Regions from separate parts of the Homo sapiens genome. Here region 1 is linked to region 2. Evidence: fine-mapped expression QTL. A gene starts in region 2. The other region holds a variant in brackets. All regions are shown on one strand. Distances are from middle to middle. Region 1 overlaps LRP5 (LDL receptor related protein 5). Region 2 holds the start of GSTP1 (glutathione S-transferase pi 1).

The links. PIP is the estimated chance that this variant, and not a neighbour inherited with it, causes the effect.
Region 1: its variant is fine-mapped to the expression of GSTP1 in activated naive CD4 T cells (Schmiedel 2018, PIP 0.95).

Annotation. Positions count from the first base shown.
Region 1 is chr11:68,317,756-68,320,658 of GRCh38, forward strand. The region is part of intron 1 of LRP5 (LDL receptor related protein 5); the gene reads left to right. LOC124900302 (a long non-coding RNA gene) reads left to right here. Exons shown (of 2, transcript XR_007062749.1): 1 at 1-2,903. Among named protein-coding and RNA genes, the nearest start is that of LRP5, 6.6 kb to the left of the region's middle. The variant GT/G (reference allele first, on the strand shown) is at 1,317.
Region 2 is chr11:67,582,442-67,585,344 of GRCh38, forward strand. GSTP1 (glutathione S-transferase pi 1) reads left to right here and starts at 1,371. Exons shown (of 7, transcript NM_000852.4): 1 at 1,371-1,403; 2 at 1,693-1,728; 3 at 2,023-2,129; 4 at 2,244-2,331; 5 at 2,697-2,800. The coding sequence starts at 1,403. RefSeq lists silencers at 971-1,590, 1,141-1,283, 1,601-1,750.

The DNA.
Region 1 (2,903 bases), 740 kb after region 2:
CTGGCCTGACTCGTGGTGTGCCAGAGCCCGTGGCTGCTGGGCGACTGTGCCTCTTTCTCTCAGTGGCAAGAGCCTTATTTTCTAATAGAGCCTGATGGGCCAGAGGTTCCGCCACAGGGACACTGTTCTCTGTCTCTCGTGCTTGGGGTCTCTTGCTGTGGACCCCCTGGGAGGTTGTCCTGGGGGTGCGGGGATTGTGTTTTCTGGGTATTTTCTTATTTGCTCTATTGGAGTGTATTTAATTTAATATATATATTTTAAACATCTTTTAGTTTGCCTTAATGTAATTTTTTTTGAGATTTAATTTTTTTTTTTTTGAGATGGAGTCTTGCTCTGTCGCCCAGGCTGGAGTGCAGCGGTGTGATCTCAGCTCACTGCAAGCTCCACCTCCCAGGGTCACGCCTTTCTCCTGCCTCAGCCTCCTGAGTAGCTGGAACTACAGGCACCCGCCACCACGCCCGGCTAATTTTTTGCATTTTTAGTAGAGACGGGGTTTCACCGTGTTAGCCAGGATGGTCTCCATCTCCTGATCCTCCCGCTCGGCTTCCCAAGGTGCTGGGATTACAGGCGTGAGCCACCACACCCGGCCTGCTTTTTTTTTTTTTTTTGAGTCTTGCTCTGTTGCTGAGGCTGGAGTGCAGTGATTCAGTCACCGCTTACTGCAGCCTCTACCTCCTGGGCTGAAGCAATCCTCTCACCTCAGCCCGCAAGTAGTTGGGACCTCAGGTGTGCACCACCACGCCCAGCTGATTTTGTTGTTTTTTGTAGAGACAGGGTTTCACTATGTTGCCCAGGCTGGTCTTGAACTCCTGGGCTCAAGCGATCCACCCACCTCAGCCTCCCAAAGTGCTGGGATTACAGACATGAGCCACTGCGCTGGGCCTTAATGTAGTTTTTCTTGTGGTTAAACTGAGGTGAAGGTTCACTCAAGGAGGAAAGTGGTTTTTAGCCTTTTGAGGGGCTCAAGGACCCCTTCAAGGATATGACAACGGCTCCTCTCCTGAGAAGGTGCCTGGTGGGGGCGGCACAGGCTCCACTCCACCCCATTGCAAGAATCCAGGGCCCTGCAGGGCTCAGAGCCCTCTCCCTGCCTCCCTGTGGGGCATTGAGAGGCACTCACCTTCTGAGGGCCTCAGTTTCCTTTTTTTGTAAAATAGAACCAGCTGATTCCAATCTCTATGGTCTCTTCTAGCACGGAGCTTCACGTTTTTTCTCCCTTCAGGATCCTGAGGCCTCTGGATCGCTAGAGATTGGGGGTGCCCCCAGAAGAGGCGCTGCTTCTGTGCCCTCCCTCACCCCACCGTGCCTGGCTCCTT[GT/G]TTTTTTTTTTTTTTTTTTTTTTGAGACAGGAGTCTCACTCACGCCCAGGATGGAGTGCGGTGGCACGATCTCGGCTCACTGTAACTTCTGCCACCCTGGTTCAAGCGATTCTTGTGCCTCAGTAGCTGGGACTACAGGCATCTGCCACCATGCCCAGCTAATTTTTGTATTTTTAGTAGAGACAGGGTTTTGCCACGTTGGCCAGGCTGGTCTCGAACTCCTGACCTCAAGTGATCTGCCTGCCTCGGCCTCCCAAAGTGCTGGGATTACAGGCGTGAGCCACCATGCCCAGCCTGCCTGGCTGATTTTTTAAAATTTGTCGTTGAGATGGGTGTCTTGCTTTGCTGCCCAGGCTGGCCTTGAACTCCTGGGATCAAGCGATCCTCCCACCTCAGCCTCCCAAAGTGTTGGGATTACAGGCATGAGCCGCTGTGCCCAGCCTATTTTATTATTATTATTATTTAATTTTATTTTTTCTCACTATTGCCCAGCTCCTGGCCTCCAACTCCTGGGCTCAAAGGATCTTCCTGCCTCAGCCTCCTGAGTAGCTGGGACTGCAGGCATGTGCCATCACACCCTACTTTGTACTTTTGCTTTTCTGTCTTTGCTCTTGTTAAAAGCCAAGTGCCATTTCATAGTACACAGGTGCACTTGACAGCATTTACCTGATTGAGGAGTTTTTCCAGCCTTCATTGCTATTACAAAGCATGCTTGCTCGTGTGTCTCTGCATGTGTATAAGTGTTTTTATAGGATACATTCCTAGTCAAAGAGTGTGTCCATTTCTGTTTTTAAAGATATTGAGGCCGGGCACAGTGGCTCATCCAGGTAATCCCAGCACTTTGGGAGGTTGAGGCAGGAGGATCACTTGAGTCCAGGAGTTCGAGACCAGCCTGGGCAAAATTGGGAGACCCCCCATGTCTACAAAAAATTTAAAAAATTAGCTGAGTATGATTGCACACTCCTGTAGTCTCAGCTACTTGAAAGGCTGAGGTGGGAAAATCTATTGAGCTCAGGAGGTCAAGGCTGCAGTAAGCCATGATCACAGCACTGCAACAGATCTAGCCTGGGCAACAGAGCGAGACCCTGTCTCAAATACATACATACAAGCATACATACATACATAACTCCTAAAAGGCTGTAGCAGTTCATACCTGCAAGCATCTACGAGAACACACACTTTCCTATATCCTCTCTGATGCTGGCAATTACAAGATTTTGGTTTTTGGTGTTTTCTTTGGTCCAGTTTGGTTAAAAATTATAACACCTTTTGATTTGCACAACCCTCATTTCTGGTTTATTGGTATTTACTTTTCTGCAAATTGCCTACACTTATCCTTGGCCCATTTTTCTGTTGTCTTTTTCTTTTCTTTTTTCTTCTTCTTCTTTTTTTTTTTTTTTTGAGACAGAGTCTCGCTGTGTCCTCCAGGCTGGAGTGCAGTGGCGCGATTGCCATCTTGGTTCACTGCAACCTCTGCCTCCCGGGTTCCAGCTGTTCTCCTGGCTCAGCCTCCCAAGTAGCTGGGACTACAGGCATGCGCCACCACGCCTGGCTAATTTTTGTATTTTTGGTAGAGACAGGGTTTC
Region 2 (2,903 bases):
CACCAACCTCTTCCCCACCACAAAAATCCCTTGCTGAATTTGATTACACTTAAATTAACGAGTTTTGTTTCATGAAAGACTCCTTGGACAAACTTGACAGTTGATGGAATAGGAGAAGCTGTCTGTCATGTCTAAAGCCAACAAGAGATCAATATCTAGAATAAATGGAGATCTGCAAATCAACAGAAAGTAGGCAGCAAAGCCAAAGAAAATAGCCTAAGGCACAGCCACTAAAAGGAACGTGATCATGTCCTTTGCAGGGACATGGGTGGAGCTGGAAGCCGTTAGCCTCAGCAAACTCACACAGGAACAGAAAACCAGCGAGACCGCATGGTCTCACTTATAAGTGGGAGCTGAACAATGAGAACACATGGTCACATGGCGGCGATCAACACACACTGGTGCCTGTTGAGCGGGGTGCTGGGGAGGGAGAGTACCAGGAAGAATAGCTAAGGGATACTGGGCTTAATACCTGGGTGATGGGATGATCTGTACAGCAAACCATCATGGCGCACACACCTATGTAACAAACCTGCACATCCTCTACATGTACCCCAGAACTTCAAATAAAAGTTGGACGGCCAGGCGTGGTGGCTCACGCCTGTAATCCCAGCACTTTGGGAAGCCGAGGCGTGCAGATCACCTAAGGTCAGGAGTTCGAGACCAGCCCGGCCAACATGGTGAAACCCCGTCTCTACTAAAAATACAAAAATCAGCCAGATGTGGCACGCACCTATAATTCCACCTACTCGGGAGGCTGAAGCAGAATTGCTTGAACCCGAGAGGCGGAGGTTGCAGTGAGCCGCCGAGATCGCGCCACTGCACTCCAGCCTGGGCCACAGCGTGAGACTACGTCATAAAATAAAATAAAATAACACAAAATAAAATAAAATAAAATAAAATAAAATAAAATAAAATAAAATAAAATAAAATAAAAAAATAAAATAAAATAAAATAAAATAAAGCAATTTCCTTTCCTCTAAGCGGCCTCCACCCCTCTCCCCTGCCCTGTGAAGCGGGTGTGCAAGCTCCGGGATCGCAGCGGTCTTAGGGAATTTCCCCCCGCGATGTCCCGGCGCGCCAGTTCGCTGCGCACACTTCGCTGCGGTCCTCTTCCTGCTGTCTGTTTACTCCCTAGGCCCCGCTGGGGACCTGGGAAAGAGGGAAAGGCTTCCCCGGCCAGCTGCGCGGCGACTCCGGGGACTCCAGGGCGCCCCTCTGCGGCCGACGCCCGGGGTGCAGCGGCCGCCGGGGCTGGGGCCGGCGGGAGTCCGCGGGACCCTCCAGAAGAGCGGCCGGCGCCGTGACTCAGCACTGGGGCGGAGCGGGGCGGGACCACCCTTATAAGGCTCGGAGGCCGCGAGGCCTTCGCTGGAGTTTCGCCGCCGCAGTCTTCGCCACCAGTGAGTACGCGCGGCCCGCGTCCCCGGGGATGGGGCTCAGAGCTCCCAGCATGGGGCCAACCCGCAGCATCAGGCCCGGGCTCCCGGCAGGGCTCCTCGCCCACCTCGAGACCCGGGACGGGGGCCTAGGGGACCCAGGACGTCCCCAGTGCCGTTAGCGGCTTTCAGGGGGCCCGGAGCGCCTCGGGGAGGGATGGGACCCCGGGGGCGGGGAGGGGGGGCAGACTGCGCTCACCGCGCCTTGGCATCCTCCCCCGGGCTCCAGCAAACTTTTCTTTGTTCGCTGCAGTGCCGCCCTACACCGTGGTCTATTTCCCAGTTCGAGGTAGGAGCATGTGTCTGGCAGGGAAGGGAGGCAGGGGCTGGGGCTGCAGCCCACAGCCCCTCGCCCACCCGGAGAGATCCGAACCCCCTTATCCCTCCGTCGTGTGGCTTTTACCCCGGGCCTCCTTCCTGTTCCCCGCCTCTCCCGCCATGCCTGCTCCCCGCCCCAGTGTTGTGTGAAATCTTCGGAGGAACCTGTTTCCCTGTTCCCTCCCTGCACTCCTGACCCCTCCCCGGGTTGCTGCGAGGCGGAGTCGGCCCGGTCCCCACATCTCGTACTTCTCCCTCCCCGCAGGCCGCTGCGCGGCCCTGCGCATGCTGCTGGCAGATCAGGGCCAGAGCTGGAAGGAGGAGGTGGTGACCGTGGAGACGTGGCAGGAGGGCTCACTCAAAGCCTCCTGCGTAAGTGACCATGCCCGGGCAAGGGGAGGGGGTGCTGGGCCTTAGGGGGCTGTGACTAGGATCGGGGGACGCCCAAGCTCAGTGCCCCTCCCTGAGCCATGCCTCCCCCAACAGCTATACGGGCAGCTCCCCAAGTTCCAGGACGGAGACCTCACCCTGTACCAGTCCAATACCATCCTGCGTCACCTGGGCCGCACCCTTGGTGAGTCTTGAACCTCCAAGTCCAGGGCAGGCATGGGCAAGCCTCTGCCCCCGGAGCCCTTTTGTTTAAATCAGCTGCCCCGCAGCCCTCTGGAGTGGAGGAAACTGAGACCCACTGAGGTTACGTAGTTTGCCCAAGGTCAAGCCTGGGTGCCTGCAATCCTTGCCCTGTGCCAGGCTGCCTCCCAGGTGTCAGGTGAGCTCTGAGCACCTGCTGTGTGGCAGTCTCTCATCCTTCCACGCACATCCTCTTCCCCTCCTCCCAGGCTGGGGCTCACAGACAGCCCCCTGGTTGGCCCATCCCCAGTGACTGTGTGTTGATCAGGCGCCCAGTCACGCGGCCTGCTCCCCTCCACCCAACCCCAGGGCTCTATGGGAAGGACCAGCAGGAGGCAGCCCTGGTGGACATGGTGAATGACGGCGTGGAGGACCTCCGCTGCAAATACATCTCCCTCATCTACACCAACTATGTGAGCATCTGCACCAGGGTTGGGCACTGGGGGCTGAACAAAGAAAGGGGCTTCTTGTGCCCTCACCCCCCTTACCCCTCAGGTGGCTTGGGCTGACCCCTTC